Homo sapiens: one gene and its partners. The protein of the gene in region 3 purifies or fractionates together with the protein of the main gene of each other region. This does not show direct contact. Each region holds a gene or a part of one and is shown on either strand. Other genes may lie near its edges.

The links.
Region 1: the proteins of POLL (region 3) and QNG1 purify together in Homo sapiens (affinity purification with mass spectrometry; 3 studies listed by BioGRID and IntAct, with this or other methods). This does not show direct contact.
Region 2: the proteins of POLL (region 3) and MED1 purify together in Homo sapiens (affinity purification with mass spectrometry; 3 studies listed by BioGRID and IntAct, with this or other methods). This does not show direct contact.
Region 4: the proteins of POLL (region 3) and CST4 purify together in Homo sapiens (affinity purification with mass spectrometry; 3 studies listed by BioGRID and IntAct, with this or other methods). This does not show direct contact.
Region 5: the proteins of POLL (region 3) and SULT1C2 purify together in Homo sapiens (affinity purification with mass spectrometry; 3 studies listed by BioGRID and IntAct, with this or other methods). This does not show direct contact.
Region 6: the proteins of POLL (region 3) and SEMG2 purify together in Homo sapiens (affinity purification with mass spectrometry; 3 studies listed by BioGRID and IntAct, with this or other methods). This does not show direct contact.
Region 7: the proteins of POLL (region 3) and NOSIP purify together in Homo sapiens (affinity purification with mass spectrometry; 3 studies listed by BioGRID and IntAct, with this or other methods). This does not show direct contact.

The regions. Positions count from the first base shown.
Region 1 is NC_000009.12:83,943,243-83,946,742, reverse strand, and holds part of QNG1 (queuosine 5'-phosphate N-glycosylase/hydrolase), read left to right. Parts: intron 1-1,753; coding exon 1,754-1,949; intron 1,950-3,500.
Region 2 is NC_000017.11:39,423,764-39,427,263, reverse strand, and holds part of MED1 (mediator of RNA polymerase II transcription subunit 1), read left to right. Parts: intron 1-2,525; coding exon 2,526-2,637; intron 2,638-3,442; coding exon 3,443-3,500. UniProt on the Homo sapiens protein: Component of the Mediator complex, a coactivator involved in the regulated transcription of nearly all RNA polymerase II-dependent genes.
Region 3 is NC_000010.11:101,578,382-101,581,819, forward strand, and holds the end of POLL (DNA polymerase lambda), read right to left. Parts: intron 2,036-3,438; coding exon 1,867-2,035; intron 1,458-1,866; coding exon of another isoform or gene 1,437-1,457; coding exon 1,072-1,436; 3' UTR 501-1,071; downstream 1-500.
Region 4 is NC_000020.11:23,686,239-23,690,538, reverse strand, and holds the start of CST4 (cystatin-S precursor), read left to right. Parts: upstream 1-1,500; 5' UTR 1,501-1,569; coding exon 1,570-1,797; intron 1,798-3,337; coding exon 3,338-3,451; intron 3,452-4,300. UniProt on the Homo sapiens protein: This protein strongly inhibits papain and ficin, partially inhibits stem bromelain and bovine cathepsin C, but does not inhibit porcine cathepsin B or clostripain. Papain is inhibited non-competitively.
Region 5 is NC_000002.12:108,298,895-108,302,394, forward strand, and holds part of SULT1C2 (sulfotransferase 1C2), read left to right. Parts: intron 1-1,943; coding exon 1,944-2,041; intron 2,042-3,500. UniProt on the Homo sapiens protein: Sulfotransferase that utilizes 3'-phospho-5'-adenylyl sulfate (PAPS) to catalyze the sulfate conjugation of phenolic compounds. Does not transfer sulfate to steroids, dopamine, acetaminophen, or alpha-naphthol.
Region 6 is NC_000020.11:45,220,210-45,224,172, reverse strand, and holds the start of SEMG2 (semenogelin-2 precursor), read right to left. Parts: upstream 2,801-3,963; 5' UTR 2,784-2,800; coding exon 2,708-2,783; intron 2,465-2,707; coding exon 792-2,464; 3' UTR 748-791; intron 1-747. UniProt on the Homo sapiens protein: Participates in the formation of a gel matrix (sperm coagulum) entrapping the accessory gland secretions and ejaculated spermatozoa.
Region 7 is NC_000019.10:49,574,057-49,577,556, forward strand, and holds part of NOSIP (nitric oxide synthase-interacting protein), read right to left. Parts: intron 2,822-3,500; exon of another isoform or gene 2,703-2,821; intron 929-2,702; exon of another isoform or gene 535-928; intron 1-534. UniProt on the Homo sapiens protein: E3 ubiquitin-protein ligase that is essential for proper development of the forebrain, the eye, and the face. Catalyzes monoubiquitination of serine/threonine-protein phosphatase 2A (PP2A) catalytic subunit PPP2CA/PPP2CB.

The DNA of each region.
Region 1 (3,500 bases), on a different chromosome or scaffold from region 3:
GACAGGGTTTCGCCGTGTTTTGTAGAGATGGAGTTTCATCGTTTTCCAGGCTGGTCTTGAACTTCTGGCTTCAAACAATCCTCTGGCTTTGGCCTCCCAAATTGATGGGATTACAAGTGTAAGCCACCACACTTAGCTAGAATTTTTTAGTTAAATTATAACCCACTAATGCTTGGTTAAATTTGTCTTTTCTATGTATAAATATAATTGGCTATTTTATTTTCATATTTGGACTTACATATCAACTTTGAGCATTTCCAAAATTGGTAAATATGATCATTTTCTAGCTGTTGATCAATTAATGTCTTCATAAAATAAGTTAATCATATTATCTGAAAGGAAACAGTTAAAAATGAATGTTGTGGTTCTCTTCAGACCTGAGCTTATGGATGATTATTCTTTGTATGTTGCTGTATTTTTTTTTAATTATTATTATTTTTGACAGAGCCTTGCTCTGTTGCCCAGGCTGGAGTGCAGTGGTGCGATCTCGGCTCACTGCAACCTCTGCCACTCAAGTTCAAGCAATTCTTCTACCTCAGCCTCCTGAGTAGCTGAGACTACAGGCGATCGCCACCACACCCAGCTAATTTTTGTATTTTTAGTACAGACGGGGTATTACCATATGGGCCAGGCTGGTCTCGAACTCCTGACCTCGTGATCCTCCTGTCTCAGTCTCCCAAAGTGCTGGGATTACAGGCGTGAGCCACCATGCCTGGCCTATACTTGGCTGTATATTATACAATTAATGTGAATTATATTGCAATCAGAAAAACAGACGTGTTTTAATTTAAGAAACTTTCAAAAGGAATGCTATCTACACATTTAAAATAATAAGCCCTTGGGCCAGGCACGGTGGCTTACACCTGTAATCTCGGCACTTTGGGAGGCCGAAGCGGGCAGATCACAAGGTCAGGAGATCGAGACCATCCCGGCTAACACAGTGAAACCCCGTCTCTTCTAAAAAAATTCAAAAAATTAGCCGGGCGTGGTGACGGCGCCCGTAGTCCCAGCTACTCGGGAGGCTGAGGCAGGAGAATGGCGTGAACCCAGGAGGCGGAGCTTGCAGTGAGCCGAGATTGCACCACTGCACTCCAGCCTGGGCGACAGAGCAAGACTCCGTCTCAAAAAATAATAATAATAATAAGCCCTAGGATTATATTGCAGAAATCTGTATATGAAGTAATGCCATTGAAAAAGAATAGTAAGTAGTATCAAGATTACATAAATTGTATTTTATGTGCCTTGAAAAATGGGAAGCGAGTTTGGAGTGATAGAAAATTTAATGTTCATTAAATCCTTTTGTTTCTTGTAAAAGATCTATGAATTTTTTTTTTTTTTTTTTGAGACAGGGTCTCCCTCTGTAACCCAGGCTGGAGTGCAGTGGTGTGATCACAGTTCACTGCAGGCTTGACCTCCCAGGCTCATGCGATTCTCCCACCTCACCTCCTGAGTATCTGGGACCATAGATGTGTGCCACCACGCCCAGCTAATTTTTTTTTTTTGTAGAGTTGGAGTTATGCCATGTTTCACAGGCTGGTCTTGAACTCCTGGGCTCAAGCAATCTGCCCACCTCAGCCTCCCAAAGTGCTGGGATTACAGGCGGGAGCCATGGTGCCCGGCCAATCTATAAATTCTTACCAACAAAGTAAGATTATTCTGCCTTTTAAAAAATGTTTCAACTGCACCTTTAAAAAATAGCATATATAAAGCTTTCAGATACTCAAATAACGTTTATATTCTCTTCATTCATCAGGGGAAAAGAGTTTCTTTTTACAAACGAGCCCAAATCCTTGTAGCAGATACGTGGAGTGTATTGGAAGGAAAAGGAGATGGCTGCTTCAAGGACATCTCCAGTATCACCATGTTTGCTGATTATAGATTACCTCAGGTTCTTGCTCATCTTGGAGCCCTGAAATACTCTGATGACCTACTGAAGAAGCTTCTCAAAGGTTTGCAACTTTAAGTCATTCTTTGTTATACTATGAATTGTTGGATCTCGGTTTAGTTTCTTTTACAAAAGGTCTCCTTTGCTTTAAAAAAAAAGTACTATTTATTGTTCATAGTATATGTAAAAAGGAAAATGCAAAGACAAAATGTAGAGAAAATGATTTTTCTTTTTGTTTACACTGTGAAATGTGGATATTGTAGAAAATTGTGCTATTTGAACATTATAATTTCATAGCCTAATGAAACCTAAATTTATGTTACATGAAAGTATGTAACACTGATAGTTCATCAGTTATAGTATTTGAAGAGTGTTAAGCTGAAGAGCACACTACATGGTTATATGAAGGTAGGTTGAAAGATAGGTAATATGAATTGGCTTTTGAGTGAAGAGACTCCAAGGTCTGCACTGGGATATCTTGCACAAGTCACTCACTTCCTTAGGCTTATTCGCCATTATTGGATATGATTATTGATATCAAGACTAGGAGCCTTATGATATATAAGCTTAGGTAAATTGGGTTGAAAAGTTTGTGTGAAAATTAGCTTATAACATTTCCTTGTATGAGGAAAATAATTATATGATTTTCATGTTAATTTCTCTTTTAGGTGCAAAATTTTCTGCTACTTTTTTCTTTATTTTATTTTATTTAAAAAATATGTTGCCCAGGTTGGTCTTGAATTCCTGGGCTTAAGCAGTCTTCTCACTTCAGCCTTCCAAAGTGCTGGGATTACAGGCGTGAGCCACTGCACCTGGCCTCTTTATGTTTGTTTGTTTGAGACGGAGTCTCACTCTGTTGCCCAGGCTAGAGTGCAGTGGTGCGATATTGGCTCACTGCAAGCTCCGCCTCCCAGGTTCAGGCCATTCTCCTGCCTCAGCCTCCCGAGTAGCTGGGACTACAGGCGCCCGCCACCACACCTAGCTAATTTTTTGTATTTTTAGCAGAAACGGGGTTTCACCGTGTTAGCCAGGATGGTCTCGATCTCCTGACCTTGTGATCCACCCACCTCGGCCTCCCAAAGTGCTGGGATTACAGGTGTGAGCCACCACCCCGGCCTTATGTATTTTTTTAAAAGAAGTAGATTCTATGATTGAATAATTTCCTCTTGTGAAATAGATTTGAATCCCCCAGATCAGAATAACACAGAATATAAAGGTACCATTATTCCTATGGTTGGCTCTACTGGGTTTTTATGCTGCCATGGGCAATCTGTTTTGTCTTCCATTTCCTCATTTGAAAAAGAACATGCTATTTTTTGTCATCATGCCCATGTCAAGGGTCACTAATTGTTGGATACCTTTAAAAGGGACAACATTTAGCAATCAGGGCTTATTTTTCATATGGCCATATTAAGCTGCTTTTTTTTTGTTTTGTACACACTGTTCATTCCTGTCTCTGAGTATTCTCTTACGTGGTTTCCATCGTCCAGTGTTCTTTCTTTTTTTTTTTTTTTTTTTTTTTTTTTGAGACGCTCTGTTGCCCAAGCTGGAGTGTGGTGGCGTGATCTCGGCTCACCAGAACCTCCGCCTCCCAGGTTCAAGCCATTCTCCTGCC
Region 2 (3,500 bases), on a different chromosome or scaffold from region 3:
GTTGCAGTGAGTCAAGATTGCGTCACTGCACTCCAGTCTGGGTGACAGAGCGAGACTCCATCTCAAAAAAAGAAAAAAAGTACTTTTGAATAAATAAGTAAATGAGCAACTCATAAGAAGAGATATAAACGATCTGACCTGAGATAATCAGCTTACTCATTGTTTAAAAAGTGTAGAAGGATGGGCCTGGTAGTTTATGCCTGTAGTCCTAGCTACTTGGGAGGTTTGGGCGGGAGGATTGCTTGAGCCCAGGAGTTTGAGACTGTAGCATACCATGATCGTGCATGTAAATAGTCATGGTACTCCAGCCTGGGCAACGTAGTGAGTTACTGATCAAAAAAAAAGTGAAGTTTTCTAAATTAAAGAACTATGGTAATGGACATTATTTTCTGTTTGCCCTTGATACAAGAAAAGATAAAGAGAGATAGACTGCCGGGCGCGGTGGCTCATGCCTGTAATCCCAGCACTTTGGGAGGCTGAGGTGGGCGAATCACCTGAGGTCAGGAGTTCGAGACCAGCCTGACCAACATGGAGAAACCCTGTCTCTACTAAAAATACAAAATTAGCCAGGCGTGATGGCCCATGCTTGTAATCCCAGCTACTCAGGAAGCTGAGGCAGGAGAATCGCTTGAACCTGGGAGGCGGAGGTTGCAGTGAACCGAGATTGTGCCATTGCACTCCAGCCTGGGCAACAAGAGCAAAACTCTGTCTCAAAAAAAAGTGAAATGGACTAATACCTCCTTAGGTCCCTTTGTAGCTTCACTCATTGACTCCATCCCTTTATTGTTTGTTTGTTTGTTTGTTTATTTATTTATTTAAGATGGAGTCTCACTCTGTCACCCAGGCTGGAGTGCAGTAGTGCGATCTCAGCTCACTGCAACCTACACCTCCTGGGTTCAAGTGATTCTCCTGCCTCAGCCTCCCAAGTAGCTGGGACTACAGGCATGCACCACCACACCCGGCTAATTCTTGTATTTTTAGTAGAGATGGGGTTTCACTATGTTGGCCAAGCTGGTCTTGAACTCCTTACCTGAAGTGATCCACCTGTCTTGGCCTCCGAAAGTGCTAGGATTACAGGTGCGAGCCTTGGCGTCAGGCTCCTTTATTGTTATTATAATTTGGCATGGGGGACGGGGTAGGTCTCACTGTGTTGCCCAGGCTGGCGTACAGTGATTTGATCACAGCTCACTACAGCCCCCGAAGTCCTGGGCTCAAGCCATCCTCCCGCCTTGGCCTCCCAAAGTGCTAGGATTACAGGTGTGAGCCAGTGCACCAGCCTGTCCTTTTATTATGATCCTACTTAAATGCATTCTGAAGAAAAAATAAGTAAATATTGATACTGAACCCTTCAAAAATGATGTTTTTGGACTGCATTGTTTCTTGTGTTTTATTTACTGACAAAAATTATTGGTTGATTAGAAAGGTAACTTCCAGGATTTCTAATTTTTTTTTTTTTTTTCCCCAGACAGAGTCTCACTCTGTCGCCCAGGCTGGAGTGCAGTGGTGCGATTTCGGCTCACTGCAACCTCCGCCCCCCAGGTTCAAGTGATTCTCCTGCCTCAGCCTCCTGAGTAGCTGGGATTACAGGCGCCTGTCACCACACCTGGCTAATTTTTGTGTTTTTAGTAGAGATGCGGTTTCACCGTCTTCTGCAGGCTGGTCTTGAACCCCTGACCTTGTGATCCACCCGCCTCAGCCTCCCAAAGTGCTGGGATTACAGGCATGAGCCATCACACCTGGCCTGATTTCTAAGTTTTATAGGAACTACAGGCCGTGCCTGGTGGTTCATGCCTGTAATTTCAGCACTGTGGGAGGCTGAGATGGGTGGATCAACTTTAGGCCAGGAGTTTGAGACCAGCCTGGCCAACCTGATGAAACCCCCATCTCTACAAAACATACAAAAAAATTAGCCAGGCATGGTGGTGCATTCCTGTAATGCCATGTACGTGGGAGGCTGAGGCATGAAAATTTCTTGAACCTGGGAGGTGGAGATTGCAGTGAGTCGAGATCACACCACTGCATTCCAGTCTGGACAGAGTGAGACTCTGCCTCCAATAAAAAAATAAATAAATAGGCTGGGCGCAGTGATTCACACCTGTAATCCCACCTGTAATCCTAGTCCTTCGGGAGGCCAAGATGGGCGGATCATGAAGTCAAGAGATCGAGACCATCCTGACCAACATGGTGAAACCCCATCTCTACTAAAAATACAAAAAATTAGCCGGGCATGGTGATGGGCGCCTGTAGTTCCAGCTACTTGGGTGGCTGAGGCAGGAGAATGGTGTGAACCCAGGAGGTGGAGCTTGCAGTGAGCTGAGATTGCGCCACTGCACTCCAGCCTGGGTGACAGAGCAAGACTCTGTCTCAAAATAAATAAATAAATACATAAATAAATAAATAAGGGAATAACAGCATCTGATAAATTATAGCTGACAAATATTGCAAAAATTAACCTCTTAAAACATACTGTGATTCCCATCATTTGTATTACTTTGAGGAATACCCTTTTTCTTTCCTATCCCCAGTTTCTCGATCTTTGGGCATGAATGCATCAGTGACAATTGAAGGAACATCTGCTGTGTACAAACTCCCAATTGCACCATTAATTATGGGGTCACATCCAGTTGACAATAAATGGTAAGTTAAATATAATTTTAGAGTAGCAAAGTCAATTTTTCTCAAAGCGCAGTATGTAACAAGTTTTAACCTGGCTGTTACCCCACTTGAATTTCTAGAGGTTGGCCTTTTGTTTTATCCATTCATTGGTTTCTCTTTTGTTTGATATCTGAGTGTTCCTCTCCAAAGTCGGCTCGTAGAACACATTCTCTGCACTGAAAGGGAAAGAAGAGAACTGTGCTAATTCCTCTGGCTTAATGAGTGCCCCCTTTTATCTTACGTTCATTAGTTACATTGGAGTAATAACTGGAGAACATGCCTCAGGATAAATGTTTGATTAAATTCTACAGTGTTAACCAATAGCATGTCTGGGAATTGGGGGTAGGAAGTTTCACAGAGTGAGCTTTTGAGAGTTTGTACTTATGTGTCTGTGTGATACATACATGTTTAAGAATAGGTGTTTGTGGCCAGGCATGGTGGCTCACGCCTGTAATCCCAGCACTTTGGGAGGCTGAGGCAAGTGGAACACCTGAGGTCAGGAGTTCAAGACCAGCCTGGCCAACATGGTGAAACCCCATCTCTACTAACAATACAAAAATTAGCCGGGCGTGGTGGCGGGCACCTGTAGTCCCAGCTACTCACGAAGCTGAGATAGGAGAATCCCTTGAACCCGGGAGGCAGAGGTTGCAGTGAGCCAAGATCACGCCATTGCACTCTAGCCTGGGCATTAAGAGGGAAAATCTGTCTCAAAAAAAAAAAAGGTGTTTGGGTTTTTCATTTTTATATCAAGTCAGAATCCAACCCTTCCACCCTCTTTTTTTTGAAGGACCCCTTCCTTCTCCTCAATCACCAGTGCCAACAGTGTTGATCTTCCTGCCTGTTTC
Region 3 (3,438 bases):
TGCTTCCAGTCCTCTGCCAGCCCAGCCTGCTCCTGACTCCCAGCACACAGTGTCCTCTCTAAAGCTGTTCCTTAATTGTCCCCAAACAGAGCCTGCTGACTCCTCTCAGAGGCAATTTCCCTGCCAGTCTGCCTCTCTCCTCCTCCGGGAAGCCTTCCCTGGCCGCCCATCCCTGTGTACACGGTCACCATTTAGTTGTTCCTAATGGTTTCCTGAGTCTTGTCACTTTTGCTCATGTCCCCTGATAGCCTGGTCTAAGGTAGGGCCTGCAGAAGATGCTGATGACTAGATAGGAGCTCTGGGTGCCTGGCTCCAACATTCTCCCTGGTCACAGCCACTGCTGTCCTTGCTGTGAGTTTAGGAGCTGACTCAGGCCAGTCCTGTCTGGAGGGCAGTTAACACAGCCTTTCTGGGCTCCTCTTTTCAGTTCCCATCTCTGTCGTCCCTGCCTGGGTGGAACAAGGTAGCCAGAGGCTGCAGCAGCTCAGACACCAGGCAGGTTCAATGTCAAATGCACTTTACTGGGCCCCTGGGCCTCCCAACACTGTCCTCACCAAGGCTGGGGCACCCCATTCCCAGCACCACCAGCTGCCCAGGAAGCAGGACGGATAGAGGGAACACATGTGGAATGGCTGTTCTCCTACCCCAGAGGGTGCCGGATGATGTTGACAGCACGGCTGCTTCCCTCTCCCCTGCAGCTTCTGTCCCCACCCAGCAGCTTGGCCTTTCCCATAGCAGGGAAGGGGGATACCTGGGGCTTCAAACCAGCCACCTGCTCCTGCTTAAAATGGGGCAAGGGGCCATTTGCAAAATTCTTCGAGGGGCAGTGGTGAGGTAGAAGGGGTGGCAGCCTGCTCCTGTCTGGGAGAGGGCTGGGCAGACACTGGGAGCCGGGCAGACACTGGGAGCCGGGCTGGCTCTTGCTTCAGGCCCAGAGCCCTGGGCCCTGCTCGCTGAGGAAGCTGGTGGTTGGAGCGGCGAGGTTCAGCCAGCTGAGGCTGGAGGGAGTACTGGGTGGCCAGGAGGGGTAGCCAGTCCAACTCGGCTCTCCTCAGCACCCCCAGCCATGGGTCACCAGTCCCGCTCAGCAGGTTCTCGGTAGGGGAGGCCTAAGAGCCTGAAGACATCCTTCTCAGTGGGAGTGGGCAGCACTCGGCCAGGCCCCACCTTGCAGCCATGGGTGTTCCGGACCACAGCAGTGCTGAGGGCATGTTCTGACAGACTCATGCCCTTGGTTTTGGCCAGGGCTCGCATGGAGCGGTTGAAGTGTGCAGAGCCGGTGAAGTAGAGCAGGGCACAGGCAAACTCGCTATAGGGCACCACGATGATGTCCAGGCGCCGGTGCCGCCGCCCTGGCCCTGGGAGCCGGCACACCCCCAAGTACTTCTGTTGCTGACCATTCTCCTCTTGGCTCACCAAGTCATCTGTGAGGAACCCTGGCCCAACAGAGGGGACTGCTGGGAGGGCAGGGAACCAGGCCTGGGCTGTCCCATCCTCCCAGGTCTCTCCTGATGTCTAAGCTGGGGCTTGCCCAGGTATTAGCTGGGTGACACTACCCTCTCTGGGCCCTTCTCCTTTTCTGTAAAACATGGATAGTAATTCCCATCTCCCCCATAGTGTCACAGAAAGATCAGATGAGATACTTGGCCTGCAGGGTTCACTGAGCACCTCCACATAGGTGTGGCGGGGCTGTTCCATCTCTCCCTGGAGAGGATTCCGGCCCCGATAGAGAGATGGGATGCTGGCAAAGCACTGTTCCCCTGCTTCCTGCCTCAGGACTGGAACTTCTGAGGTTCTCCCTCTGAGGGGGCCCCCAGACCTGTGCTGCCCTCTGTCAACCTGCTCACCCAGAGATGGAGCTTATACCTTCCTGCCGAAGACTGTCAAGGAGGCGGCTGAAGATACCCCGGTGGGACCGGCCATCTGGGTGAGTGATGAGCACGTCGACATCACCACAGGTCGCCTTTCCCCGTCGGTATGAACCACATGCCACACACAGCAGCCCAGAGTTAAAGGCCTGGGCTGCTTTCTGGACCTGGGAAAGAGAGCGGTGACAGGTGAGGGGCTGTGCGTGGGGAGCTCCTCTCCCACAGCAGTACAAGGGCCTTCCCAGACTCGGGCCCACACCCTCAGCTTATGCCCATTCCAGATGCCTGCTGCAAGCCCAGGGGAATCCACCCTGAGGAGCTGCTGTTCTTTCCCTTCGCTAGGACAGGAGAGAAGAAAAAGCTCACTGTGCAGGAGGCAAGCCTGAGGAGAGACGGGAGAAGGTGCCGGCTCTGCTTCTGAGAGTGGGCACTGAGCTTGCCCTGTGGAGCTCTTTAAGAGTAGGGAGACACAGACTCTCTCTGCCCCTGCCCCAGCCCACGTGCCCAGGTCTGTGAAACTCCACTTAGGACAAGGGGCCAGGTGCTGAAAGCCCTCAGCCAGGTCTAGGCAGCCCCAGATATCTACTGATTTGGAGCTAAAGGTTTGGAATATGTGAGCTGGGGTTTGAGGACTGAGCAGGTGGCTGGCAGCATGCGCCAGGCCCAGGCCCAGGAGAAAGTGGAGCACAGAAATACAGCTGCACCTGTGGGAAAGGAGAGGAAAGAAAGCAAAGAGGGGGCAGTTCTGAGCCAACACCCACATCCTTTCTTGGTGGGGAGGGAGCTGAGACAGCAACTGCCAGCTGAAGGATTGTCCCTCTGAGGAAAAATAAACCCATTAGCCTCCACCCCTGAGACACTGAGGTTCTTTCATATGCAGATGGCCTCCTGCCTCCACCCCAGGACACTGAAAATTCTGGGGCCCCGGACACCTCAAGTATCCTGACAGGAGGGCTCCGCTAATCCCCTTACTCCCTTCTTGAGCCTCCCAAGAGAATGGAAGGAGGAGGTCCACGTGAGTAATCCCATCAAAACTCCTATGGCTGGAGCCCTTAAATGGGGGCACAGGAGGCCAGGTGGGAAGCCTCTTTTGTTCCAATGGGCTGGGTACTGACTGAGGCATTCTCCATGCCCGGACACCATGGCTGAGTGACGGTGTCATCACTAGCACCAAGGCCTGGTGATGGGCAGACAAAGAGGCCTGTCCATCCATCTCATACCGGCCTCATAGCCTTGTGGCCTGGAATGGAGCTGGGGGCTGATTTCAATCAAACTAGGCCAGTCTCCATGGGATCCCACTCTATCAGAATCCCTGACCAAAGTGAGCAAAACTTGCCTATTACAAGCAGCTCCTAATCCTAATGCCCATTGAACAAATGATACATCTAGCCCTAAATGCAGTCCAGTGTCTCTCTAATCTAGCTTTTACATGAACCTAATCGCTAACCCAACTCTAAACCAAACCCAAATCTTATTTCTTGGACAACTACAAATCTTAACTTAAAAGCAACCAACATTAAGAAAATCCTACGCCTAATTAAAGCCTAACTTTAACTCAATCTTTTTTTTT
Region 4 (4,300 bases), on a different chromosome or scaffold from region 3:
CACATACTATTAGGCATTTTATTGTATGTAAATTCTACCTCATTTAAGGCAATTTTTAAAATGCCACGTGAGTCTTCCAAGGAGTGCACAGAGGAAAGGAGCCTGAAGCATGGCTGCCTAGGAGAGAAGCAAGAGAGGCCTGTGGGTTCCCACATTCATCCCGTGGCTGCTGCTCCCTCTCCTGACACCCCCACTGCCTCACAGGGGTCTCCGTGCACCTTCCACCGGTCCTCACCCACAGTTACCGTGAGACTCCAGGTGGTTTCCTCCCTTGCTCACATCCCCTCCAGGAGCTTCCTCTTCCTGGAGCAGGCATGTCCCAACCCCACCTCAGGGCCTTTGCACTGGCTGTTCCCCGCTGCCTGGGGCTGCTCAACCTCTCCAGTCTCATAGAGACCACCCTGACCAGGGTCCAGTGGTCTCTCTCTAGCCCCTGTTCTATTTCACTTCCAACAGAGTGAGTATAACTCCCTGATCCTAATTGTTGATCGTAACCTACCATCCTCTACACACACTGTGTAGGAATTTACTGTGCAGTTCCACAGCCACCAGCCACATGTGCCACAGGACACTTGAAATGGGGCCAGTCCAAAATGATTCCTGGGCTAAGTGTAAAAAATACACAGGGAATTTCAAAGATTTACAAAACCAAAAAAAAAAAACACACATAAACGATCTCATTAATAATTGTTCCCGTTAGCTGAAATAATATTGTGGCTATATTAGGTTAAATAAATATTTTAAACATTACTTTCACCCATTTATTCTCATCTTTTAAAATGCATCTACTAGAAATTTTCAAATGCTTGTGGGTTCATGTCACATCTCTGTGGGCAGCAGCTCTGCAATGTCACCTCTATGGCTCATCATCCAGGTTCCGTCTTCAAGCCCTAGACCTCCTGGCATGGGCAGTAACTGGTGATAGGTTTGTTTATTGAATAATGAGTTATGAAAACAGAAGCCAGTGACCTTTTCCAAAAAGGTTAATTCCCTTAAATTTGGCAAAGAAATTCTCCATATTAGGGTGTGGACAGGGTCTTCTGGAACCTTCTGAAATAACCTCTCTGTTCCAGAGATTCAGAGACCGTGACCAAGTGCTCCTGGAAGCCTCTGATATCTGAAGACCCCGGGAGGCCAAGCCCTGTATTTTTCCCCTTTCTGAGCAAACAGGAAGTCACATTGCTTTCACAGTCAAAGGACCAGTGTCACCTCTGTGGAGACCTGGGTGACTCAAGCTTGGGAGCACTGGGGAAGAGAGGCATGGCTCAGGGAGGCTGCAGTGAGGACTGGAGTGGGGAGGAGGGGGAGATGGAGGAGGAGGCCTGGGAGGGGCAGGGGGAACTTAGGCAGGGAGGGAGCTTGTAGTGGTGGGGGAGTGAAAAGAGAGATGGAGAAAGAGGGGATGGGCAGAAAGAGGAGGAGGAGTCAGGGGCAGGGCATGGAGGTGGGTGGGGCTGGGCTGCCAAAGCAGGATAAATGCACACCTGCCTGCTGGTCTGGGCTCCCTGCCTCGGGCTCTCACCCTCCTCTCCTGCAGCTCCAGCTTTGTGCTCTGCCTCTGAGGAGACCATGGCCCGGCCTCTGTGTACCCTGCTACTCCTGATGGCTACCCTGGCTGGGGCTCTGGCCTCGAGCTCCAAGGAGGAGAATAGGATAATCCCAGGTGGCATCTATGATGCAGACCTCAATGATGAGTGGGTACAGCGTGCCCTTCACTTCGCCATCAGCGAGTACAACAAGGCCACCGAAGATGAGTACTACAGACGCCCGCTGCAGGTGCTGCGAGCCAGGGAGCAGGTGGGTGCTGCCTCCACCCGAGGGGTCCTGAGCCCTAGCCTGGTTTGTTGCCGGACCCCCAAGAGCATTCCAAGCAAATCAACACTGACACATTCATGATCTAATGCTCAGATTCATTCAGCTTTCTCTGACTCTCCGCTGATGCCCTTCATGCCTAAGCATGCTCCCGGTCCATGCACTGCAGACAGTTAAAGGAAGTGCTGCAGCTTCCTTTAACCTGCAGCAGCTGCTGTGTCTGTACCATGACCGTGGCATTTCCCAGCGTCCAGCAGGTGTGGATGGAGACTGTGCTGACTCTGGGTGGGCTTGATGCTGCTCAGGATGAGATCCAGGCGGTGAGGCTCATTCTCCTCCCTGAGTCCTCTCCTCAGGGGCCACATGGGAACCTGGCTCCCTGTTCTGCAGAGCCCTTCTTCCTTCCCCAAGTCATGCCCTTGGGCACAGCCCCTTAGGGCTAGTGGCCTTCACCCTCAGGCAGGCTGACCCACCCCTGCAGGCCAGGATGGCTGAGTCCCTGCTGGGGTGGAGCACGCCTGGCCCTGCCTCTACGAGCTGATGCAGAGTTAGACCTCAGCCAGATGAGGACAGCAGTCACCCAGCAGAGCAGAGGAGGGGTTAGGTCCAGAGTGAGCTTCAGCAGGGCAACTGGGCCCAGCTTGACCTGCATCCCATGGCAGAGCAGCAAATAGTGACACAGCCTTTAGAGCTCCTCCACCTTCTAGAAATTCAAAGGAATCCAGACCAGTCCCGTTTCTCCTCCTACAGCTGTCAGCTGGAGCCCTCACCCTGCACAGGAGGTGCACTCCCTGGTGCCATGGTCCCCGCTGGCCTGCATCTCCCTCTTAAGCATGACAGTAACTTGGAGTGAAGCACAGGGCATTGCAGACCATCAGACCTGGAAGCCTATTTTATACATGGGTAAACTGATACTCGAGGGATCTCAGCAGTTCCTCCTGGTTCCAAAGAGTCCCTCATCCCAGGTTTCTCCACAGCTCTGCCACGTAGTGTCTGGGAGAGGCCCTGTGCAGGGAAAGGGTTCAATTATAATCTGCAATTGTAAGACACTCAGGTGTGCTGCTGACTTGAGAAACGTATCTTGAACCTCACACTTGAAATGGTGGCATCTGGGCGGCCCCATTGACCCAAAATATCTGTGTGTGTGAAGCATCTCATTTCCTACTCTAAGTGAAGTAATAAATCTAGGTTAAATGGAGGGAATAAGATTTTCGTGAGTTAGCTGAAATTTTGTCATCAGACAGCCTTCCTAGAAAAGAGTCAGTGTTCCCTCACCCCTGAGCCACAGGTAGCAGAATTCAATGAATCCTCTTACCCAGCACAGAGAAAACGATGTTTAAGAGCGGGCATGAGGCTCAGCACCCTGCCAGCTGACAGGAAGAGGGGGCTTGTGTGCCTTGTGTTGACATGTGGGCAGCTCACGAAGCCCCCAAGCAAGTCCAGTGACTCAGCCACAGTGAAGTGCCTGTGAGTGCATGAACTGATGGGGGCGCTGTCCGTGCTTCCTGTTTTCTCCTGTGTGCAGACCTTTGGGGGGGTGAATTACTTCTTCGACGTAGAGGTGGGCCGCACCATATGTACCAAGTCCCAGCCCAACTTGGACACCTGTGCCTTCCATGAACAGCCAGAACTGCAGAAGGTACGTTCCTGATGCGGGTCCCGGGCCAGTCATGCACTGCAGAGGGGTGCGTATGTGTCAGCCTCTGTCCTACCCATGTTTGGACGGTGTGTGTGTGCAGGTGGGTATGTGGGGAGCCGTGTATGCATGGATGTGTACGTGTTCATGTACTTATGGGGGGGTGTGCATGTAGGTGTGCATGTGGAAAGGTGCACGTGTGTACACACATGTGCCAGTGTGTGCGGGTAGGTGTATGGAAGCATGTGTGCCTGTGTGTGGGTGTGTGGCGGAAGTATGGGGGTTTGTACATAGATCCATGGGGATGAGGGGTCCAAGTGAGTTTACGTAGTTGCCTATGTGTGTGCAGATGGGGTGGTGAGGGAGGGGGTGATGTGTTTGATTTGCTAGGAAGGCTTTAGCTTGGGAATGGTTACTAGAAGGTCAACTGCCTGCTTTGGGGTGTTGCCTGTTGGACAGGAAGAATCACCTGCGGGGCTGGGTGCTGGGCAGGGAGAAGGGGATCTGTCTAATCCCAGCCTCAGGCACCTGCATGCAGCCAAAGCCACAATCAGATTAGTGGGACCTAGAGGCCTGTTAGCTGGGAAGCCCTGGACCTGCCCGGCTCACCCAACACCAGCCTCTCCAAGAACCTGCTGGTTCTTGTGAGGTCTCCACTCAGGGGAGAGCGGCACTCCCCTTGTTGCCCTTGACCCATGCCCCAGCTCTTTGAGGGGGAGTTGCCCTGCCCTGGGTTCTTCCCTCTGGCCCCTCTTAGTGCTGGCCTGGGTGCTGGAGGTGGAAGGAGCTGGGGGAACTGAGCCACCTCCCCATGTCCTGCACCCTTGGGGCTCCCGAGGCCTTGCCCAGGCT
Region 5 (3,500 bases), on a different chromosome or scaffold from region 3:
AGTTAACTTCTGGTCCAAGCTGGTAGTATAATTTCATATCCATGCATGTAGTATGAAAACAGGATTGTGGTTATGAGCTCTCAAGAAAGCCTCTTTTTCTGCACCCAGAGGCGAGGCAAGGAAATTACCTTACCTCTCTTTGGCAGTAGGTGATCTTTTTCTCTCTCACCTTTCACTGAGGTAGCAGACATTTGAGTTTCTCCGGCTAATGCATGGGTCTCTGTTCCTAATCTGTGCCTCACTAAAGTCCAGGGCTACCAGCCTCTTCCCTGAGCAGAGGTCACTGAACTGAGCACTGGGTGTCCAGAGGGTGAACCCACTCAGGGCAGCTGTCATCAAAGCCTTTGCCCACTTCTCCATCTTGCAGCTCCCTCCCTCTTCACTTTCGTCCCTGGAGGGTCCCCTTATTTTCTTATGAGCCTGATTATGCACTTAAATGATACGTTTGGTGTTTTAATCAGAATCTGCAGGTGTGTGATTAACAGGAAAGATCTTCATAATGTTCAGGCCACCATGTCTCCAGCAGTGAAAGTACTTGGAGAGACCCTTGAAGAGTGAGTGGGACTGTCCAGATGTGTAGAAATGAGAGCCGGAGGGAGCCACAGGGGCGTGGGGCAGCAGGACCAGGGCATGTGGAAGGTCAGAGTGTGAGCTGGCGTAGAGGTGGAGCTGAGAAAAGAGACTAGAGGCAGGAGAGCTTTGCAGTTCTTCTAAGGAATATGGACTTCAAAAATGGTTAAAGGTGGTTTTCCAACTTTTCTTTTTAGTACCAAAACACTTTTTTATTTAACAAAAATTACCATGACTACATGATCCAGCAATTCCACTTCTGGGTATATATCCCAAAGAAATAAAAACAGGGTCTGAAACAGATACCTGTACATCTACATTCAAAATAACATTATTCACAATAGCCAAAAGGTGGCAACAACCCAAGTGTCCACCAATGGCTGAATTGATAAACAAGATGTGGATATACAATGGAACATTACTCAGTCTTAAAGAGGAAGGAGATTTTCTGCACTAACTTGACCCAGCTCCTCTGACATGATTCGCATGAGCCTCTGATTCCCACACTAGAGTGGAAGCTCCTTAGGGAGAAGGCCTGTGTTTTTCTTGTCTTTGTTGCCTTTTCCCCTAACCTCAGCTTAACACGATGATTGCACAAAGTGCTCGTTAAGGCTTTTAAATGAGAGAGTAGAGGCCGGGCACCGTGGCTCATGTCTGTAATCCCAGCACTTTGGGAGGCCAAGGCAGGTGGATCACGAGGTCACCAGATCGAGACCAGCCTGACCAACATGGTGAAACCCCGTCTCTACTAAAAATAGAAAAATTAGATGGGCGTGGTGGCCAAGCGCCTGTAATCCCAGCTACTCGGGAGGCTGAGGCAGGAGAACTGCTTGAACCTGGGAAGCGGAGGTTGCAGTGAGCCGAGATCGCACCACTGCACTCCAGCCTGGTGATGGACCAAGACTCCGTCTCAAAAAAAAAATGAGACAGTAGAAATCATGACTCACAGGCCAGCAAGTATACATGTTTTTAGAGATGAAACAAGTGATTGCAAACAGGCCGGGTACATGAGACAGCCTGCTGCAGGCACATGGGGGTCATCTCTGGCTGGCAGGAAGGTGAGGGAGTCCTCTCTTCTCTGGTCCTGGCTGACTCTGCCTCAGCAGGACTTCACTTGACCATTCTCACCTTCTGTCACCTCATCCTTAAAGTGACAGAGTAAATTAACTCTAAGGCCCCATCCAGGACTCAAGCTGTGTGATTTTACAAAAATGAAAATTATATTAATAATCCCATTGTAAAATCCCAAAAGAAAGTCAAGAGACTAGCAGAAAGACAGGTGGGTGATGGGATGTCCTGGACAGAGCCTGGATCATGAGGTCCCCATGTAGTGCTTGTACTACGCAGATGTTTCCTCTTGAGCTATTTTAAAGGTGTGGAAAAAGCCAAAGCAATGCCCTCTCCACGGATACTAAAGACTCACCTTTCCACTCAGCTGCTGCCACCGTCTTTCTGGGAAAACAACTGCAAGGTAAGATACCAACAGCTCCCTGTGACAGAAGGGAAAGTAAGCCAACCAAAGCGAGTCCTGCAGACCCCAACGCAGAGCATTCGTGATCACCTTTGCCTCTCCACTGTCTCTGATGCTTACCAGCAAAGAGAAAACATAAAGTTCTACATTCAGCAGGACATTCACCTGAACAGTTTCAAATAGGACATGAAGGCAGGATCCAGATTGAATGTTTGGAGGGAACTAGAGACATGGGGAGGCAGTGAGTGCAGTAAGCGTAGCTGTGAAATGAAGGGGAGAAGATGGTGGTCCCAGGCTGCAGGCCATGGGGAGGTTTTCTAACAGACCAGGGAGGGAAGAATGAGAGGAAAAAAGCTAAAGCTCTCCCCAAAGGAGGCCAGGCGCGGTGGCTCACGCCTGTAATCCCAGCACTTTGGGAGGCCGAGGCGGGTGGATCACAAAGTCAGGAGATCGAGAGCACGGTGAAACCCCGTCTCTACTAAAAATAAAAAAAAACTTAGCCGGGCGCGGTGGCGGGCGCCTGTAGTCCCAGCTACTCGGGAGGGTGAGGCAGGAGAATGGCGTGAACCCGGGAGGCGGAGCTTGCAGTGAGCCGAGATCACGCCACTGCACTCCAGCCTGGGCCACAGAGCGAGACTCCATCTCAAAAAAAAAGTTCTCCCCAAAGGGTAAACAGATGAATCAGGCAGAGCAACGCTCTTGAGGACACCCCACCTCTGCCTCTGGTAGACTCTGAGTTCTTCGTTTTATTTATTCTGTGACTTTATTCGTATGCACCCCAGTGCCTAATAAGTTCCTGGCACATAGAGGGCATTAGACACGTCCTTGCTGAGTAAATACGGAAGTGGCTGTAGAGCAGGTGGAGTCAAGGGTACAAACTGAGCCGCCAGCCTTGGTGAGAAAGTGGGGCACTGCTTCCTTAAAGGCAGGAATGAAGGGGAAAGAAGGGCTAAGAAAGATATGTTGCTAGGGGACTGGAGTGAAGTTGGAGGACTCAAATGACTTCACTCCTTTTAGTAATAATGTTGGATAAGGGGACAAAAACTTCCATTTCCAGAATTATGGCAAACTAGGTGTTCTGAACCCCTGAAGCCCTTATATGTAGAACATCCAGGATTACTGCATAAAAAAATCACAAGTTTCCTTTTAATGCATAACTGAGATCAAAATAAAGTCCCTAAGTTTAGAAACTGCAGAGGAAACTGAAACTCAGAGAGGCAAATTGAGACTGGGACTCTCCAGGGGAAATCTGATGACCTGGATAATCCAGCAATTTAAGTTTTAATGGCTGCACAGGGACAGGGTCAAAGCCCATGGCACAAGGAACCAGAAGAATGAGGAGCCAAAGCTGGGACCACTGAAGGGCTACATCCTCAATGGATGGGTGGAGGAGGCAGAGAAAGACCTTAGGGAACCACTCTGCCTTGACCTAGGCGCTCAGCTCCCTTGAGAATGTATA
Region 6 (3,963 bases), on a different chromosome or scaffold from region 3:
CACCAGGTCACTAGTTATCAGCTGGGACCATTGTTTCTGCTGCTTACCCTCTCTTCAGGTACAGTGTTACTTATTGCAAAGGGGCATGGAAGAACCATTTCCCCAATCCAGGTTAAAATTTTCCTCTCCTGACATTGCAAGTGTCCAGTTAGCACCTGAGATCTCTCAGCATCTCCTGCACCTCCATTTCCACTTCCTTTTTCACAATCTGAACAGGAATCCTTCTTTCTACTCATATCTTTCCTATATTCAGAGAGAGTGGACTGCTAGTCTTTGGGCTTGTGGTCTCTGAAGGAGCATAGATGAACTCTAACAGGGATGCAAGAACATTCATGTATGTGCAGAAAGAAAATATTAACTGCTGTAATATTTCATACTATATGAGAAAGAATTTGAGGTTTACTAATCTAAAGTATAAGAATTGACAAGAGTATACCATAAACTCATAAATATGCATATATAGTCAGTGCATGTTCAAAAAAATCTTTAGCAGGTAGGCATGTATAAAAATATTATTGAAGAATACTCAATTAAGAATAGGAATTCTAGGACCCAGTGATAGTCCAAGCAGCCTTCCCTGCCACTACCAGGTCCTCTACTCGCCAGGAAATGGTGTTCATCTTCCCACCACTTGTAATATAGCACTTCTATTGATGTGAACAATGGTTATCAGTCCTACCATGTTCCTGGAGAGTCCCCAACTTTGGGACAGGCACCTCTCCTATTTGGTAAGAAAAGCAAACTTACCTTGCTATTGGTCCAGCTTTTCAAGTGGTTGCTAAGCAACAGGGCTATGTAGATATTGGATTTCTGTCTTCATTATATTGTTGTGTCAAATGATCATCTTGGGCAACCTCATGCTCAGTAATTACAATATTATGTGACTCACTGGATTCCTGTTTGTATCTGCCTTTTTGTTCATGACTGAGTAGGTCTTGTTTGCTATCTGCAGATTGACCAGACTTTCCTTTTGCATTTTGGCCAGACCATTGATCTTGATTAGGATTTGGTGTCTGGATTTGAGACTTGCCTTCTACTAGCTTTTCAATTTGGAAAGAAATACTGCTTTGGGATACATCTTTCTGCGTGCTCTTTCCTCCATAGTTGAGTCGTCTTTCTTCTGTACTTGAAGATTGGTATGACATTTTATTTTCCTTATGGCCATGCTCTTGATCTTGACTAGGAATTGTTACCTGGTTTTGAGACTTGCCATGTATTTTCTCTTCAGTTTGGATAGAAATACTGCCTTTGGATACACCTTTCTGTACATCCTTTTCTCCACTGTTGAGACGTCTTTCTTCTGTACTCGAAGATTGGTATGATATTTTATTTTCCTTATGGCCATACTCTTGAGCTTGACTAGGAATTCTTACCTGGTTTTGAGACTTGCCATGTATTTGCTCTTCAGTTTGGATCGAAATACTGCCTTTGGATACACCTTTCTGGATGCCCTTTTCTCCACAGTTGAGATGTCTTTCTTCTGTACTTGAAGATTGGTATGATATTTTATTTTCCTTATGGCCATGCTCTTGATCTTGACTATGAATTGTTACCTGGTTTTGAGACTTGCCATGTATTTTCTCTTCAGTTTGGATAGAAATGCTGCCTTTGGATACATCTTTCTGTACACTCTTTTCTCCATGGTGAAGTTGTCTTTCTTCTGTACGTGAAGACGGGTATGATATTTTATGTGCCTTCCGGCCATGCTCTTGATCTTGACTGAGATTTTTTGTCTGGTGTTGATTCTTGTTATATACTAGGAGCTCATCTTGGGTAGTAAAAATGTCTTTGGGTCCATGTTGGAGTCTGTCTTGATGTGCAGGATGGAGTGAAGTTTGTAGTTTACTTGAATGTTCCTCTCTCACGTCAACCACATTTTGGTAATGCCCTTTATTTTGATGAGAATTTTTAGTCTCACGTTGTTGTTTGTTAACTACTAGTTCTTCAGTTTGGAGAACATAACTGCTTTGGGATCCACCTTGTGTTCTACCTTTTTGTGCACCAGAGGCTGAAGCTTGTTCTTTACTTAGTCCATGAACCCATAGCCTTTTTTCTGTGTTTGAACATTGACTGGATAATCCCTTTCCAGATGGGCTATTCCCCTGATCTTGAGAAGGATTTTGTGTCCCATGATGAGCTTGGCCTCCTTTATGATGTATAACTATCATGTGAAAATGACCTTTTGATTTATCATGGTCTCTGCCTTCTTGTTTATAATTGAGCAGTTGTTGACTTCCACCTAGGTGTTGTTTTGATTTTGTCGCCTTATGTAGGGCATTCAAATCATATTGCTGACTTTTTCGGGTCCAGTCATGATCATTGATGTCTACATGATATGTGTGTTGAATAGAAAAACTGCCTTTGGATTTAGTATGTTGTTGGTCTTTTTGTCCAAAATAGTGCTGGCCCTTTTGTCCATGTGGAAATTGGGAAGATCCGCTTGGCAATTGGCCTTTTGATCCACCTGGTAATTGATAATAGAAATGTATGCATTCATTATCTCCAAAGCTCTCTTGCAACTCTTACCTCCCACCTTTTCCCAACAAATTTCTGATATTTCCAAAAGCCTACAGCGTTGGGTGGAGAAAAATCAATTCTCATCAAGGAGAAGAATCTGTGCCTGAACAGGTTACTGTTTGCACCCTGAATATCCTTAGAGGCCATTTTTTTAAAGTAGCTTTCCCCAAGGCTTACCCTCTCCACTCACCTTTTTGTCCCATCACAGCTGCTTGCTTCTCCAAGATAAGGAGCAGGGAAAGGACAAAGAGGATGATGGACTTCATCTTGCTTGAAAAATCTTGTCTGAGAACTGAGCGGATCTCTTCATTTATATGTTCCTTGAGTGGGTGTGCTATGGGTGGAGCTGAAATGTCAAAAGGCACTGCCCTTTCATAGCTTATTAGTAAATGCCAGCTTCCTCACCCCTGCTCAGTGGGGGATAATGTCAAAGTCCCCAGGGACTTAGCATGGGGACATAATATCAAAGGCAATTTTTTTTACTTTCAGAATCCCCAGCAAAATTTTATCGGTCTTTGTATATCATCATGCCAGATCGCTTGCATTATACAGAAGAAATTCAGTCCGGAGTAGGAAGGAGACTAGCTTCAGGTTACAAAAGTAATTGGTGGCTGACAATGCCTTCATACTCTAAATGCGAGTTTCCTTTCTGATCCAATAACTTAAATACTAAATTTTAGGTATAACTCTATACTTTGTCTTGTTTTAAAGTAATCCTGAGACACATTCTGTTTTACTCGAGAAGGAGCAGTCATAGAAGTAGAATGATACAGAAGAGAAAGAAACTTCATGGAAGCCAAAGAAAAAAATTTCAACAAATAAATGAGGCATACCAATGTCAAATGTATCTGTGAAGTTCATCACAAAAAAGACTAACATGTGTCAAAAACTTTCTGATGTTACTCACTGCTAGTAATGTTAACGAGAGATGAATACAGTTGTGTTGGGTTGTCAGTTGAAGGATGGAGTCCAGCTGAAACCATCTCAAGAAGTCTGATTTCATGGTGGAATGAGAGGTGAGGCTGTATCTGGAGGGTGAGGTAAGCTCCAGAGATTTTTTGAAAGGATGAGAAAAATTTAACATGTTTTTATGATGATAGGAACAACTGTTGGAAAAAGAAGTAAGAATGTTGGTTTCCAAATTGGATTATTTGATGATATTTACCTAAACAAAAATGTATTTACCAAAATACATTTTTTAAATAAAAGCATTTCATACTTCTGTAATAAACTGCTGAACCCTCCAACAGGCTGTGAGGAATATTTGCCAACTTCAGTTCATTAAATAATGTATTGAGAGTGGACCTAAAGCTAAAATTTTTACCTTGGGTGGAAGCATAGGGTTTTTTTGCTTTTGTTTTGTTTTGTTGTGTTGTGTTGTTTTGTTTTGTTTTTTTGCAATTGTGAAAACTTCTTGAAAAATCCAAGGAAGGTTTTTTGTTTGTT
Region 7 (3,500 bases), on a different chromosome or scaffold from region 3:
TCACCATGTTGGCCAGGCTGGGTCTTGAACTCCTGACCTCAGGTGATCTACTACCTCGGCCTCCCAAAGTGCTGGGATTACAGGCATGAGCTACCGCGCCCAGTCTTGCTCATTTAATAGGTAGGAAAATTGAAGCTTGGAGAAATTGGCCTCTTCCTCAGTCTATTCCTTGACAAACCAGCCTCAGGGGGGCTTTTCAGAATGGAAGTTTGATTAAGTCACTCTCTTCAACTGCTTCTTGGACATGACTCAAGACAAAAACCAAATTATTCAGACTAAGTGTAAGAGAAATGGGAGAATAGGAAAACTGCCATTTTGCAACCTCTGGTGAAATAGCTGACTCAGGCAATGATTGTTGATGGATGGCATTAAAGGAGAGGCTGATGGGGCCTGGATAGTCACAGGATGCTAATTCTTGCTACTGGAAAATACACAGTTGTAGCTTTACAATGCGGTTTTCGATGGCTGCCACCTGTCTCAGTCTGCTCCAGCTGCCATAACAAAACACCACTCTGGGTGGCTTAAACAACAGACCTATTTTCTCCAGTTCCTGAGGCTGGAAGTCTAAGTTCAGGCTACCAGCATTGTGGGGTTCTGGTGACACCCTCTTCCTGGTTTGCAGATGGCTATCTTCAGTGGCAGAGAGAAAGCTCTCTGGTGTCTCCTTCTGTTTTTTGGGAGGAGTCTCACTTTGTCACCTAGGTTGGAGTGCAGCGGCGGATCTCGCCTCCCAGGCCCAAGTGAATCTCCTGCTTCAGCCTCCTAAGTAGCTGGGATTACAGGCGTCCACCACCATGCCTGGCTAATTTTTTTTTTTTTTTTTTGAGACGGAGTTTCGCTCTGTCACCCAGGCTGGAGTGCAGTGGCGTGATCTCGGCTCACTGCAAGCTCTGCCTCCAGGGTTCATGCCATTCTCCTGCCTCAGCCTCCCGAGTAGCTGGGACTACAGGCGCCCGCCACCATGCCCGGCTAATTTTTTTGTATTTTTAGTAGAGAGGGGGTTTCACCACGTTAGCCAGGATGGTCTCTATCTCCTGACTTCGTGATCTGCCCACCTCGGCCTCCCAAAGTGCTGGGATTACAGGCGTGAGCCACTGCGCCCGGCCTCATTTTTGTATTTTTAGTAGAGACAGAGTTTCACCATGTTGGCCAGGCTGGTCTTGAACTCCTGATCTCATGTGATCCACCTGCCTTGGCCTCCCACAGTGCTGGGATTATAGGCATGAGCCACCATGCGCAGCCTCCTCCTATTATAAGGACACCAATCCATCAGATTAGGGCCCCACTCTTTCACCTTAATTATCTCCACAAAGGCCCTACCTCCAAATATAATCACCTTGGGGAATTAGGGCTTCAATATACGAATCTGGGGGGGACATTCAGTCTATAATGCTGCCTGAGCCTGAATGAATTTCACTACCCCTGAAAATGGGGCACCCAGGCAGTATGCAACATGAAGCGACCAGCTCTGAAGTAATCACCTGACAGCTGAATGGAAATTTAATCAAGTCTTTACATTCAATTTCCTGATTCTAGGAAGTCAGAGGATATAGCAGGGAATAACAAAAAAGGGCCAGAGAGTAAATGTTTTGAACTTTGCAGGCCAAACAGCCCCTGTAAGTACTCCACTCAGCCCCTGTAGCATAAAAGCAGCCACAGACACACAAACGGGCATGGCTGTGTTCCAATAAAACTTTACTTTTAGACTCTGACACGGAATCACATATAATTGTCATAGGTCACCAAATTCATTCTTTTGGTTTTTTCCAGTTATGTAAAAACGTTAAAAACCAGGCCAGGCGCAGTGGCTCACGCCTGTAATCCCAGCACTTTGGGAGGCCAAGGCGGGCAGATCGTGAGGTCAGGAGATTGAGACCATCCTGACTAACACGGTGAAACCCCGTCTCTACTAATAATACAAAAACAAAATTAGCCGGGCGTGGTGGCGGGCGCCTGTAGTCCCAGCTACTCCGGAAGCTGAGGCAGGAGAATGGCATGAACCCGGGAGGTGGAGCTTGCAGTGAGCGGAGATCACGCCACTGCACTCCAGCCTGAGCGACAGAGCGAGACTCCATCTTATAAAAAAAAAATGTTAAAAACCATTTTTAGTTTGCAGGCTGAACAAAAACAGGTAGCAGTTACAAAAGTCAGATATCTCCTGGCTGTTGTGGCTCATACCTGGATAGGGTGCTTTGGGAGGCAAAGGCAGGAGGATCACTTGAACTCACGAGTTCAAGACCAGCCTGAGCAACATGCCAAAACCCTGTCTCTACCAAAAAAAAGCAGCAGCAGCATGGTTTTTGAGACCAGACTTGAACTTGCTATGGGCAACATAGCAAGACTCCATCTCCACAAAACAAAATTTAAAAAATTAGCCGGGCATAGTGGCATGCGCCTGTGGTCCCAGCTACTTGGGAGGCTGAGGCAGGAGGATCACTTGATCCCAGGAGGTTGAGGCTGCAGTGAGTTATGATCGTGCCACTGCACCACTGCACTCCAGACTGAGTGACAGAGTGAGACCTTGTCTCTGGGGAAAAAAAAAAAAATGCCAGGTGAGGTGGCTCACACCTGTAATCCCAGCACTTTGGGAGGCCGAGGTGGGCGGATCACCTGAGGTTGGGAATTCGAGACCAGCCTGACCAACATGGAGAAACCCCATCTCTACTAAAAATACAAAATTAGCTGGGCGTGGTGGTGCATACCTGTAATCCCAGCTACTCGGGAGGCTGAAATGGGACAATCACTTGAACCTGGGAGGCGAAGGTCGTGATGAGCCAAGATCGCACCATTGCACTCCAGCCTAGGCAACAAGAGTGAAACTCTGTCTCAAAAAAAAAAAAAAAAAAAAAAAAATCAGGATATCTGATAAGGGAATTGCAGTGAGAATATATTAAAAACTTACAACTCAATAATGAAAGGACACCTAACACAATTTGAAAATGGGTAAAGGATTGGAATAGACAGTTCTTCAAAGATCTACAAATGGCCAATAAGCATGTTAAAAGACACCAGTTCACACCCCCTAGAATGACTATAATCAAAAAGATAAATAATAAGTGCTGGTGTGGATATGGAGAAACTGGAACCCTTATACATTGGTGGTAGAAATGTAAAATGGTACAGCCATTCTGGAAAAGTCACAGTTTCTCAAAAGGTTAAATAGTCACCTTTTGACCCAGCAATTCCACTGCCAATAGAAATAAAAACATACATCCATGCAGGCGGGGCGCGGTGGCTCATGCCTGTAATCCCAGCACTTTGGGAGGCCAAAGCGGGCGGATCATGAGGTCAAGAAATCGAGACCATCCTGGCCAACATGGCGAAACCCCATCTCTACTAAAAATACAAAAATTAGCTAGGCGTGGTAGCGCATGCCTGTAGCCCCAGCTAGTCGGGAGGCTGAGGCAGGAGAGTCGCTCAAACCTGGGAGCCGAGATCACGCCACTGCACTCCAGCCTGGGTGACAGAGCAAGACTCTGTCTCAAAAAAAGAAAAAAAAA